Homo sapiens: one gene and its partner. The protein of the gene in region 2 interacts with the protein of the main gene of each other region in a biochemical or structural test. Each region holds a gene or a part of one and is shown on either strand. Other genes may lie near its edges.

Evidence for each region.
Region 1: the proteins of TNRC6B (region 2) and AGO3 form a complex in vitro, tested with the Homo sapiens proteins (one study listed by BioGRID).

The regions. Positions count from the first base shown.
Region 1 is NC_000001.11:36,067,032-36,073,145, reverse strand, and holds the end of AGO3 (protein argonaute-3), read right to left. Parts: 3' UTR 646-6,114; downstream 1-645.
Region 2 is NC_000022.11:40,180,902-40,188,119, reverse strand, and holds part of TNRC6B (trinucleotide repeat-containing gene 6B protein), read right to left. Parts: intron 1-7,218.

The DNA of each region.
Region 1 (6,114 bases), on a different chromosome or scaffold from region 2:
AAGAAAAAAATTTAAACAATTAAAAATTATTTGCAGACTGAAACTGGCCTGCCAACTTGCAACTTCTGGTATTAGTCCAACAACTTTAATTATAAAATGAAGAGCTATACCTGAAATTATGCAGTTAAAGAGGGTTGAGAGCTGATTTCCAAAATCTTAGTCCAGTGTTTTCTTGCATCGCATACCGGGGCTGTTTATCCACTTTTGGGCCTGTAAAGATTCCTCCAGTTCATTTTGGTTCCTTTTTTTCCTACATATTCTTAATTCTTTCACCTCCTGGCAAAGTTTGGAAGCCTAGCGTCGTCTCCCCATTTTCACTCCACTCACTGTCTTTTATTTAAGAAGGTGAAAAATGGGTGGGGTAGAGGGGAGGTAGGCAGTCTTTGAAAAACCCGAGCTCCAGCCACATGCCCAGCACTGGAAACATTCTATGCATTGTCTCATTTAATGCTCCAACAGTTCTACTTTCTCCTTTCACACTGGAGGAAACTGAGATTTAGAAGCATCAAGGAACTTGCTCAGAGTGTCACATAATCAAGGTTTGAACCCAGGACTTCATGACTAAAGCTTAAGTGCCTTCCACTGTATCACATGGGTCTCGTTCCCTAGTCTGAAGAGCTGTAATGATGACCACACAAGAGAAAGTTTAAGAGCAAAGCTTTTCTTTTTATTGCAGTTATTAGTGAAAGTTATACTTCAAACTGAAGCTAAGCAACACTAAAACCATTAATATTTTTAAAATCAAGGATTAAAAACAAATACAACATAGAACTCTCCAGTAGGCAGAATGGCAGAAAAAAGAGTAGTGGTTCTGTCACAGAACATTTCGTGACAGTTTGGCTCAGAAAGAATCATGACAATTTCTTTTGTTGTTGTTGTTATTTGCCTCCCAACAGGAAACAATGACACTTTCTTTAACACAAAATATTATATGAGCTGCTTAAAAACCAGCTTCTTCAAGCTTCTCAGTCTCACTCATAACTTGTTCGTAGTATAATAATTTCTGTGGGGAAGATAGTTTAACTGAAGTATAATATTTTTTGTGGGGAAGATAGTTTAACTGAAAAAGAAAATATATTACCAAATTTTAAATACTGAAAACAAGGACTTTTGTTCAAAAACTTTATTTGCCTTCTGCTCATTATAATTACATATAATCTTCAAGGAGTTTAAATGACAACCAAATCCAAGGCCTGGCCCCCAAGAACACAGTGATAGGATTCAGCATTTGGTGTTTCTAATTATACAATGACTACATATATATCATAGACTTGCTCTCATCCATTCTCCACCATAAAGTTTCAATTTCCTCTTAAAATATGGCAGTCAAGTTTAGTCTCATTCAAAATCTTATCTGGTCCTACAGCATATTACAGACTTAGACTCACTCTTCTGTTTTAATTGATGTTACTGTGTAGCCGAAGATTTTAAAAAAAGATTTATAGATATACACTTGAAATTCTGCAGTCTTGAAATACTACAATAAATTTTTCTTACTTATGAAAAGCCAACAACAACAAAAAAGGCCAGGCCAGGCATAAGACAGAGGGGAAGGGAAGATGAGGAGGGAGGTTTGAGAGTCCCATCATTTTGCCTTGCTGAAACTGGGTTTCAGTAGAAATATTTGGCAAGAATAGTGTGGAAAAGGAGGATGGAGAAAGAGGTTACTCTGATTTTATGTAATAATTCAGTTTCAAAACATACTGATATCAACCTCCAAAAATAGTAGTTCACATCTGCAATACAAATAGGCACACACGGTAAAGATGGTTAAAAAGTAGAATTTAAAAGGCTATTTGTCCATCTTCAGGACATTTTGCAGGCGGCCCCACCCTCCCCACATGTCCTGTATTTACATTTTACTCTTCAGAAAAGCCCCTTTTAAAAGAATGCTATTTCTTCCTCCATTACTTAGGGTTTTTTTTGTTTTGTATTGTTTTGTTTTGTTTTGTTTTTAGCAGCAATTATCTAGTGGGAGCAGTTAGCTACGCTTTAGGGGTGTATGTTTGTATGTGCATTGTGTATAACAGAAGTGTTCTCTAGAGTGAGCAGTCAGATTACACTGCAATGGTCATATTACCATTGAGTCCCCCAAACACTAAAGAAAGACATTATTTTTTTCTATATAAACTTAATACGCAGAGTTATAAACATAAAATATTGATATAGACACACATACGCACACCACTGCTTCCCAAAGCCTATGAATGCATCCACGTACTAGTCCACAAGAATGATCTTTATTCACAAGATATAGGAATACTTTTATGGGTCCATAACTGAAAAGAGACATTAAAGCTACACATTACAGCAAAAATAGTTTAAAATTATTCCTGATATATCAGCGTTAGCTATCTCACTGCACAAGGTGGATTTTTTGTTCATTTTTCATTTTTCAAACATGAATCTCCCCAACTTTTCATCTTCAGTACTTGAAATTCTCATTGAAATTAATGCAGATGCCAGCTTTGTTAGCAATGAGTTGGAAAAGCCCAACTGCCTGCAACAAGGGGAGGTTGGCATCTGTGGAGATAAAAGTAAATGTTGAATGCGTCCATACCCTGTGTACCTAAAATGCATCCTTTTTTCTTTTTTTAAAAAAAATCTTGTCTGTTGCAACAAAGAATTGTTTACACTCCCTGCAGTGGTGTGCCCTTTGTAATTTCCTAGAAACAGAATCTCTTCCCCCCATGGAAATGCATAAGCCTGTTGAAATGTAAGGACCTGCCACGATCTATAAAGGTAACTGCATCAGACACCTGATATGACCTGCAGGTGCTCAGAATTGAATTCACATGAAGCAGAAACTTTCACTATATTTTAACCTTTATAGGTACATGATGATTGGAATTTTTAAAGTAAAGCAAAGTTAAATTCTGCAAAGACATGAGTGAAATAAGCACACTTTCTTTCTTAAAATCTAACCCTCTTCTTCAAAGAAAGGTACCAAAAATCGGCCAAGAAACAGGGAATAACCATCTAGTTGTACAATAGCCTCTGATGCTAACATGTAGCAAAAGTGCCTGAAGGCAAAGGCGAAGTTAATTTCTAAGTATTTGTATTTTATTATTATTATTTTTTTTTTTATTGAGACAGAGCTTCGCTTTGTTGCCCAGGCTGGAGTGCAGTGGCACAATCTTGGCTCACTGCAACCTCTGCCACCTGGGTCCAAGCAATTCTCCCACCTTAGCCTCCCGAGTAGCTGGGATTACAGGCACCCTCCATCGTGCCCAGCTAATTTTTGTATCTTTAGTAGAGACGGGGTTTTGCCATGTTGGCCAGGCTGGTCTCGAACTCCTGACCTCAAGTGATCCACCTACCTCGGCCTCCCAAAGTGCTGGGATTACAGGCATGAGCCACCGCACCCAGTCAATTTCTAAGTATTTGATGGTTTTCACCACATTAATCTAACTCAAAACTGCAGCTGCCATAGCACCACTAAAATCATTTGGTTTTTGAAAAGTTATGCTTTTGCCAAGGATTATTATAAAGAAAAATTCAGCCTGTGTGCTGGATATCTTGCAGGGAAGAAACAACAGGATATGTTTGTAAGTGAACACTACACCATGATAAGGCCTATGTTTCTCTTATTCCTATTTCATAAAATGATCTACAACAAAGACATTTTCACAGAGGCAAACTGGAAAGGAATCCTTCACACAACACTCTTCTATTATCTTGAACGTCTGAATAGCTTTTCCTTTGGAGAACTCAAATGCTTCCGCAAACATTATCTTATTCTTACAACAATTTAGTGATCATGCCTATAATCCCAGCACTTTGGGTGGCTGAGGCAGGAGGACTGCTTGAGCTCAGGAGTTAGAGATCAGCCTTGGCAACATGTGAGACCCCATCTCTGCAATAAAAGAAAATAATTAGCTGGGTGTGGTGGCATGTACCTCTAGTCCCAGCTACTTGGGAGGCTGAAGCAGGAGGATAGTTTGGGCCCAGGAGTTGGAGGCTGTAGTGAGCTATGATCACACTACTGTAGTTCAGCCTGGGCAACAGAGTGAGACCCTGACTCAGAACAAAAGAACTCCAACAATTTAGTGAGGTAGGTGAGGACAGGTATTACCACTCTTATTTACAAGGGGAAACTAGGCACACAGAGATTAAACGAATTGCCTAAGGACACGGAGCAAATCAGTGGGAGACCTATTACTAAATTCCAAGTCTCTGGCTCATATTCTAGAGCCCTTTCTACTCTCAAAGGCAATAAATTCTCAATAGGCTTTTTCCATTTGTGATCTTTCAAAAGTTCCTCCATTAAAGAACACCTTAAGCCTTCTCTCTTATAGCCCACGCTTGACTAGGAACTGGGATGAGTTTTAAACTATTTTTACACAATATTTTGCACATATCAAGAAGGCAGATGTGAGACATAAGCTGTATAATAAAGTCAGAATAAATACATAAATTAAGAGAAATGAACAGGTTAAGTATTAATTCATTCAATATAATTTTTTACATATTTTAGAAGCCATGTATCAGAATAAAAGTCATAACATTTTAAAGTTTAAATCAGAGTCCAATTTATCAAAACCATAAGCTATATTAATTTTCTTTAAGAATATGAGGATCTCTGTTGGTTGGCAGAAGGTTAGAATATTACTTTCAAGAATAATTCTTATTTATTTATTTATTTTAAAGATTGGGGTCTTGCTGTATTGCCCAGGCTTGCTTTAAACTCCTGGGCTCAACTATCCTCCTGCCTCATCCTCCTGAGAAGTTCGGACTACAGGTGCAAACCACCACATCTGGCTAATATCAACAATAATATTATCACTGTGCCATAATACATCATATTCCTGATATATACTCTGTTCACATTAGCATTCTATAGCCAGCAAAAAATTCCATGGCTAGAGATAATACTTGCAACATTAATACTTTCAATCTTAATTCTCACTTAACTGAGTTAGAATTTCTCTTCATATATGTTAAAGTTACATTGTAATAATCATCATTCTATCTATTTTTGTTTTATCCTTCCCCTCTTTTATTTTTAACAGTGTGTGTGTTTGTGTGTGAGTGTGTGTGATGGGGAAAAAAGAACAATTGTGTGATTCACAAATGGCATAAAACACTGATTGTATTACAAATAAGAATGGTGGCACTCTAGTAAGTAAGATAATGGAATGTCAAAGGAAACAAACTTTAGAATACAAACATGGAAAACATGCTAAAATATTAATCAAGCTATAGCTTGTGGCATGTGATTCTTCTTTCCCAAGTATTTTGAGAGTGTCATTTACCCCCAGTAGAATTCTATATCAACTGCCTCTAAGTCCTTTTCCTATTCCTTCTTTTTTTTTTTTTTGAGACGGAGTCTCACTCTGCCACCCAGGCTGGAGTGCAATGGTGGGATCTCGGCTCACTGCAACCTCCGCCTCCTGGGTTCCAGACTACCTTGTCTGGAAAGGCCCTGCTTGGTGTTTTCTATTTAAAGGGGAAAACCAAACATGTTATGTTGATAGCAATGCCTGGCTCTATTAAAGATAAATCCTTCATTTAATTTCCTTATTGTAATTCAGACTAGCAGGATTCTCCTGCCTCAGCCTCAGGCGCCTGCCACCACGCCTAGCTAATTTTGTATTTTTAGTAGAGACAGGGTTTCACCATATTGGCCACGCTGGTCTCAAACTCCTGACCTTGTGATCCACCTGCCTTGGCCTCCCAAAGTGCTGGGATTGCAGGCATGAGCCACTGCTCCCGGCCTATTCTTTCTTTTTTAAAGAGGGAATGGGGTTGGACCCTGGGCTAAGAAATGAGAAAGCTCCTGGAAAACCTTAATTGCAATTAATTACTATAGAAGATCAAGTCTGTTGCTAGCAAAACCAAAGCTTCCTTTTGTTAAACTCCCTGGGATCAAACTGTATCCATGAACTGGGTCGGACTGTCTATGCCAAAATTCTTTCTTCATTACAAACTAACCAGTGTTTTTACCAAATCCCACACCAAAACCATTTTCTTTACAGGAAAGACTACATTGTCTGGAAAGGCCCTGCTTGGTGTTTTCTATTTAAAGGGGAAAACCAAAGACACTATGTTGATAGCAATGCCTGGCCCTATTTAAGGATAAAGACTTCATTTAATTTCTTTACTGTAATTCAG
Region 2 (7,218 bases):
CTCTTACCTCAGTCTCCCAAGTGGCTGGGATTACAGGCGCCCAGCTAATTTTTTGTATTTTTAGTAGAGACGAGGTTTCACCATGTTGGCCAGGCTGGTCTCAAACTCCTGACCTCAGGTGATCCACCCGCCTCAGCCTCCCAAAGTGCTGGGACTACAGGCGTGAGCCACCGTACCCGGCCAGATTCAAGATCCTTTCTATCTTTACTGGTTATCACTTAGATGGTCTAGTTAACAGCTGCAAAGCAGTCTCAATCAATGAGATAATTAAATGAAAATCTTTGAACCTGCTTTTTATAAACTGAAAAAACCCACCCATATTTAGTAAATATGCGTTCAATTGGCCCAGGTCGGCAAAAAGTACACAATGACTAAACGGGGCTAAACGGAGAAAAGTGAGATAAGAAAAGTGAGAGACAAGCACAACATAATTAGCCTGGTGGCACCCTCTCCCACCTCACACCTCCACCACACAGGGACGCTGGGACACTGACTTAAAGCAATCCTAACTTCATCCCCCCACCTGAAGCCACCACCTCACTGACTCCAGGGAGTGCAAAAGAAACTCACAAACAGTAACAGGAACGCTCCCACCCCTCCTGCTGGATCTGTTTTTAAGTGTAAGCCTCTGCACCAAGCATTTCAGAAACATGGCACAAACCGGTATGTTTAGGAACTTCTACCAATGTACCATTCTGCTGACTGTAGCCCAAACACTATTTCAAATTTTGGAATCTGTGTATTTTCATAAAAAGTTTGTCTCCTCACATTCAAAATTAGAGATTTGACCCTTCTAAATTCTAAAAATTCCACTAGGATAAGCCAACATGTATTCTAAGAAACACTAATCCTGTGAAATGCTTTGCGATGGTGCTAAACCATTTTGGGTATTTTCAGAGTGCACATCCGCTGTACAGTAGCCTATTTTACTTCGCATAACCCTCCCTGTGCTGTCCAACAGAGTAGCCGCACGTGGCTACTGTGCACTTGCAATGAGACTAGTGCCACTCAAACTGAATTTTTAACTGTATTTTAATTAATTTAAATTTAAAAACTGACATTTCCATTGCTGGAAAACTTTTTTATGTTTGGAAAAACGTGGGTATGTGAACCTACTTTTCCATGAAAAAGTAGTAAGTTTTATGAAATCTAAAAGCAAATCAAGTATTTCCAATGAAAATTTTATGTTTGAACTGAAATGTGTTGTAAGCCTAAGATACACACCAGGTTTCAAAGTCTTGGTACAAAAAAAACGTAAAATGTTGCGTTAACATTTTAAAATCAATAATATGTTGAATTAACAATATTTTACATAAATAAAGTCGATATTACTGAAATTAATTTCACTTATTTCTTTTTATTTTTAACTTTTTTTTTTTTTTGAGATGGAGTCTTGTTCTGTCACCCAGGCTGGAGTTCAGTGGCGTGATCTCGGCTCACTGCAACCTCAGCCTCCCAGGTTCAAGCAATTCTCCTGCATCAGCCTCCCAAGTAGTTGGGATTACAGGCATCCGCCACCACGCCCGGCTAATTTTTGTATTTTTAGTAGAGACGGGGTTTCACCATGTTGGCCAGGATGGTCTCGATCTCCTGACCTTGTGATCCGCTCACCTCGGCCTCCCAAAGTGCTGGGATTACAGGTGTGAGCCACCGTGCCTGGACTGTTTACTTTTTTAATGTGACTCCTGGAAAATTTAAAATAACACACGTGGCTTGCATTCTGTTCCTACTGGGCGGTGCTGGCGCCATCGAATGATTCCCATACCAACACTGGAACACCTCCCAACACCAGGTTCGGGAATGTTGCCATAACCAAATACTTTTCTTCCTGTGCAGCATTTGAACTGCTGCCCACACCTGTGATCGAACAGTTCTTCCCTCATCTTCTGTGATGAGGAATGACTGTCCTTCAGAGCCACCGTTCTTTTTATCCTTTCCCAGGTCCTCTTTCTCTTCCCGTCCCCAAGGTCTCATTCTCAGTTCTTTTTTCTATTCTTTACAGTCCCATGGTGACCTCATCCTCTCCCTTACCTTCGACTATCACTTCCACGTGGAAGCCTTCCAAGTCTTTATCTCCACTTCTGACCTCTTTCTCAAGCTGCAGATCCACACTGCCAGCTGCCTGCTAACCAGTTCCATTGCCAAGTCCCACCAAATTCTCCAATTCAGTAAGTCTGACCTGGAATGCGTCATCTTCCTTTTGGTTGAAGATTCCCATCATTCACCTTAAAAACCTGGTCCCTAGTTGCATGGCCATAGCCTTATAGCAGGACCTTTCATAACAGTCCTTTTATCCCCTAATTGGCCTGCCTGTCTCTCAATTCTTCCTTTAATCAGTGCCCCCCCACCAAGTCCTCCTCTGCACCACTGCCATATCAAAATTCTCACTGCACTGCCATCAAATTTTCAACAGGTCCCCACCGTCTACCATAGCAATACAAACTACTCAGCAGGCACTCAGCTCCTGTACACGTGTGCAACCTCCCCTCAATCCTCCCTGGACACACCTAGTCCTCCTCCACCTTACTCTAGCTAATACAGCCTGCCATGAGTCTACTCACCACCATTCTGCCCAATCTGTAGGGTTCCACTCAAATACAAAGTCCTCAACAAAGCTTTCTCTGATCAACACAGTTAAAATCAGTGTCTCTCCTCCCTCAAACTCCTTTGGTACTTCTAATAATCATTATGGTAATGAGAGTATATGGCCTTATCTTTATAAAATAGTACAGTATTCCCTTAATAGCACTGAACAGCACCTTGCACTGCATAGTACAGGTATGCCATCTTTGGACACCTTACCAAAGAAATCAACTTAAAAAGGAAAATCTTGCCAGGTGTGGTGGCTCACACCTGTAATCCCAGCACTTTGGGAGGCCGAGGTGGGTGGATCACAAGGTAAAGAGAACAAGACCATTTTGGCCAACATGGTGAAACCTCGTCTCTACTAAAAATACAAAAATTAGCTGGCCGTGGTGGCACATGCCTGTAATCCCAGCTACTCGGGAGGCTGAGACAGGAGAATCGCTTGAACCCGGGAGGCAGAGGTTTCAGTGAGCCAAGATTGTGCCACTGCACTCCAGCCTGGCGAGCAAGACTCCGTCTCAAAAAGAACAAAAAAAAATTTGGTAAATTTGGAACTACTGGTAACTCTTAAGTCTTTATCTCCAGACCGGACCTGTAATTACTCCAGCCTTTCACCTGGATATCTCAGGATTCAATGATTCCAAAACTGAACTCATAATCTCAACCCCACACCTGTGCCTCATCTAAATGCACCCTAACTCAACGAATGGTGGCACCATTCCCACAAGAAGCCAGGCAGAGACACAGGTGTTATTTTACATTTCTCCAACCCCATCTTCTCATACCCAATGACCAACTCCTCCAAAATCTTCCTAAATGCCTCTGGAACTCATTCATTTGTCCCCAACTCTGTTGTCAGTTCAGGCCACTATGACCTGAGATTACTACAGTATCATCTGGTCTGACGTGCAATGTCCCAGCCAGTTTCCACAACACACCAGAATCGTCTTTCAAAAATCCAATCTGAACAAGTGACTTTCCCACTTAAAACCCTTCAACTGTTCTCAGGAAAAAGACTTTCAAACGTGGCTTATACACTCTTCTGCATCTGGTCAAGGCTTAGTTTTTCAGCTTACCTCTCATTTCTCAGATTATTTCTTCCCTTAAGCACACGACACTCCAACCATGTCAAAGTACTCTCTATGCTGTTCCCCAAATATGCCAATGTCCACTAGTGCCCCGTGGTCTTTGCAGAAGCTGTTATCTCTCTAGGTGTCCACCCTTTTTAACCCCCCAACACCCTGAGCACCAGCCAGCCCCTTGCATCTATTCTCTAACTTCAGCAGTCGTGTCTGGAGAAAATCTTCACACTACTGCTAGGCTTGTACTTGTACTTATCAACACCTGGCATGTGAAAAGCACTCAGTAATTATTTGCAGAATGAATGAGTAAACAGATCATTTTCTAAGTTTTTTAAAAAACAAATTCCAACGTCAATGAATGAAAGCCATTTTTCTGTCACCCATATTAATTCAACAGCATTGTATAAAGTGGGCAATGGACCTAAATTTTCATTTTGCCCATTGAGTCAAAACTGGCTGTTGTGCACGGTGGCTCATGCCTGTAATCCCAGAACTTTGGGAGGCCGAGGCAGGTGAATCACAAGGTCAGGAGTTCGAGATCAGCCTGGCCAACATGCCGAAACACTGTATCTACTAAAATATACAAAAAATTAGCTGGGTGTAGTGGCAGGCGCCTGTAATCCCAGCTACTCGGGAGGCTGACGCAAAAGCATCGCTTGAACCCAGGAGGCGGAGGTTGCAGTGAGCAAAGATCACGCCACTGCACTCCAGCCCGGGCGACAGAGTGACTCCATCTCATATTAAAAAAAAAAAAACAACCTAGTAATAATTTAGTCAAATAAACAGAATTTACATGTGTGGGCCCAGAATAATCACAATGAGGGAGAAAACGCTGTATTCAATGTTCTCCTTTGCCTTGTAAACTCTAAGACCAATTCATTTGAAATTGCTGAGAACCTTCTGATGCAAAGCACAGAATGTATGAAAAACAGCCAAGTAAACGTGGATACAACACAGAGGCACAGCCTGAAGGAAACTGGAGAGTTATGAAGAGACGACATCAGACCACAGGAATGTAGGGACTTGAATAAAGAGAAAAGGCTCCGTGCTGCTCCTGTCCTTGTGCAGGCTAAAGCTCTGTGCAATCACTGTACAGGCTTCATGATCCTGGTAGCCATGAGAAAGAACAGAGCCATTCTGCGGGGCCATAAAAGCCTTTCTGGTTCATTCAACAAAGGGAGATACAGCAAAGGGGAAGGAAACACTTACTAAGCAACAAGACTAGGTGCCCAGCCCTCACATATAGCATTTCCTTTATGCGTCGCAACAATATATTATCCCCATTTTGCTGGTGAGGAAACGAGCCTACCATCGTCACACAGTGAGTCCTGGTGACCTTATACTCACACATTTTCACTCAACATCCACTCCTGCCAAGCCGTTCTAGATGTTGGGGATACAACAGTGAGGAAAACAGATAAGGTCTCTGCTTTCAGGAAACCGGATAGTATTGTGGAGACGTACCATACACAAATAATTTCAGATGGTGATACAATTTAGGAGTGTTAAAAAAGTAAAATTGAAGGATGTGATAAAATAACTAGGAAGGCAATTCCAGGTTGCAAAGTTCTCAGAGGTAATGCAAAAGATAATTTTGAAGAGATAGTGCACAGAGCTAAAGACAATGTTTAATAAAGTGACTATCAAGTCAAACCTTCAATGAAGTCTCCAAAACTACCAGAAGCAAAAAATTACCACTCATTCCCTGATTATCAGAAAAGATAACTAAGGAGTTATCTCAGTCATAACCTAAAGCAGTAAGTTATATAGTTAGTCACCAGATGGCAAGTATTTCCACATGAACCAAACTATTGAAGGCAATGGGCCAACCAAATTAATTCTTAGATGCCCCAGCACCTACATCAGTGCTTAATAAATTACTGCTGAACAAATATATGACGGAAAGAAGAAAACAATGTTAAGATGTCACTGCCATGAGTTAAATAAATCCCTTTTCTGGCCAAGTGGCTTCAATTCACTCCACCCTACCCCTGACACCCGTCTTAATCACAAGCAGGTGAGGAAAGTGGGATTAGAGTAAATCCACGAACAATACTGTACAGAGAAACAATTAGCATATGCTGTCCCTCTCCCCAGCCACCAGACAGAAACAAGTTCCACTTAAAGAAGTCTAATATCTAAATAACTAAAAATTATTAAATGGGGTAATTATTTGGCTTTTTTTTCTTTTCTTTTCTTTTTTTTTTGAGACGGAGTCTCCCTGTACTGCCCAGGATGGAGTGCAGTGGCACAATCTCGGCTCACTGCAACCTCCGACTCCTGGGTTCAAACGATTCTCCTGCCTCAGCCTCCCGAGTAGCTGGGATTACAGGCAGGCGCCACCACCCTTGGCTAGTTTTTTTGTATTTTTAGTAGAGACAAGGGTTCACCATATTGTCCAGGCTGGTCTCGAACTCCTGACCTCGTATCCACTCACCTCGACCTCCCAAAGTGCTGGGATTACAGGCGTGAGCCACCACGCCCGGCTGGCTTTTTTTTTTTTCTCTCGAGACAGGGTCTAGCTGTTTCCTAGGCTGGAATGCAGTGGCACGATCTTGGCTAACTGCAGTGTCAACATCACTGGCTCAAACTATCCTTTCACCTCTCAGCCTCCTGAGTAGTTGAGATGACAGGCGTGAGCCACCATGCCCAGCTAATTTTGTTTAAAATTTCTTGTAGGGACAGGGTTTTGCCATGTTGCCCAGGCTGGTCTCAAACTCCTGAGCTCAAGCAATCAGCCTGCCTGGGACTCCCAAAGTGATCACAGGCGTGAGCCACCACGACTGGCCTATTTGGCTTCTTTAAGAAATTTTAAAACAAGGACCCTCCTAATGCAGATACTCAGATACTTCTGTAACCAGGAACTTGCTCTGAATATTGCACATAAACTGCCAAGTTGTGACGATCTGTTTACCAATAATGCTGACCTGGTACTCCTTGAGGAAAGGGACAAAGTACATTCATCTATCTGCATTGCCTCAGGGCTGTGTCCAGCTTAAACTGCAGATGATCAATGATTATATGATCTGAGTTATAAAAATTAAAATCTTTCCAAACTTTTCAGTCATGGAGCAGCTGGGTAGGGTGAGGAGCAGCTGGGTAGGGTGAGGACCACCCTTATTCCTCAGGGTGGTCCTCAATAGCCAGAGCTGCTCAGCCTGCTCTGCAGAACCTGAAGGTCTCATCATCGCATAACACTCTTCTAGTGTCTCTTGTAGAGCTGAAGAGCTGGAGAAGCCTTAGAAGTCTCTGCTTCAATGTTCGGAAGTTTATTTTTAAAGGACCATCCGAGTGGCCACACAGAATAACAAATGGCCATTCACAGCTGAAGAACAGAGCTGAGTTTGCACCATATATCAAAGATGCCAAAGCTTCCTTTCTGGGAACCAGATGGAATGACTGAAAAGCACTTTAAAATTGAGATACCACTTCTGATGAACGCTACCAATTTTTGTGATCTTTCAGTCATGAACCTGTGACATTTTTTTCTGAGACAGAGTAATGTTGTGATATTATCACTAGTTGATCCAGCATTAGGAAATATAGATTG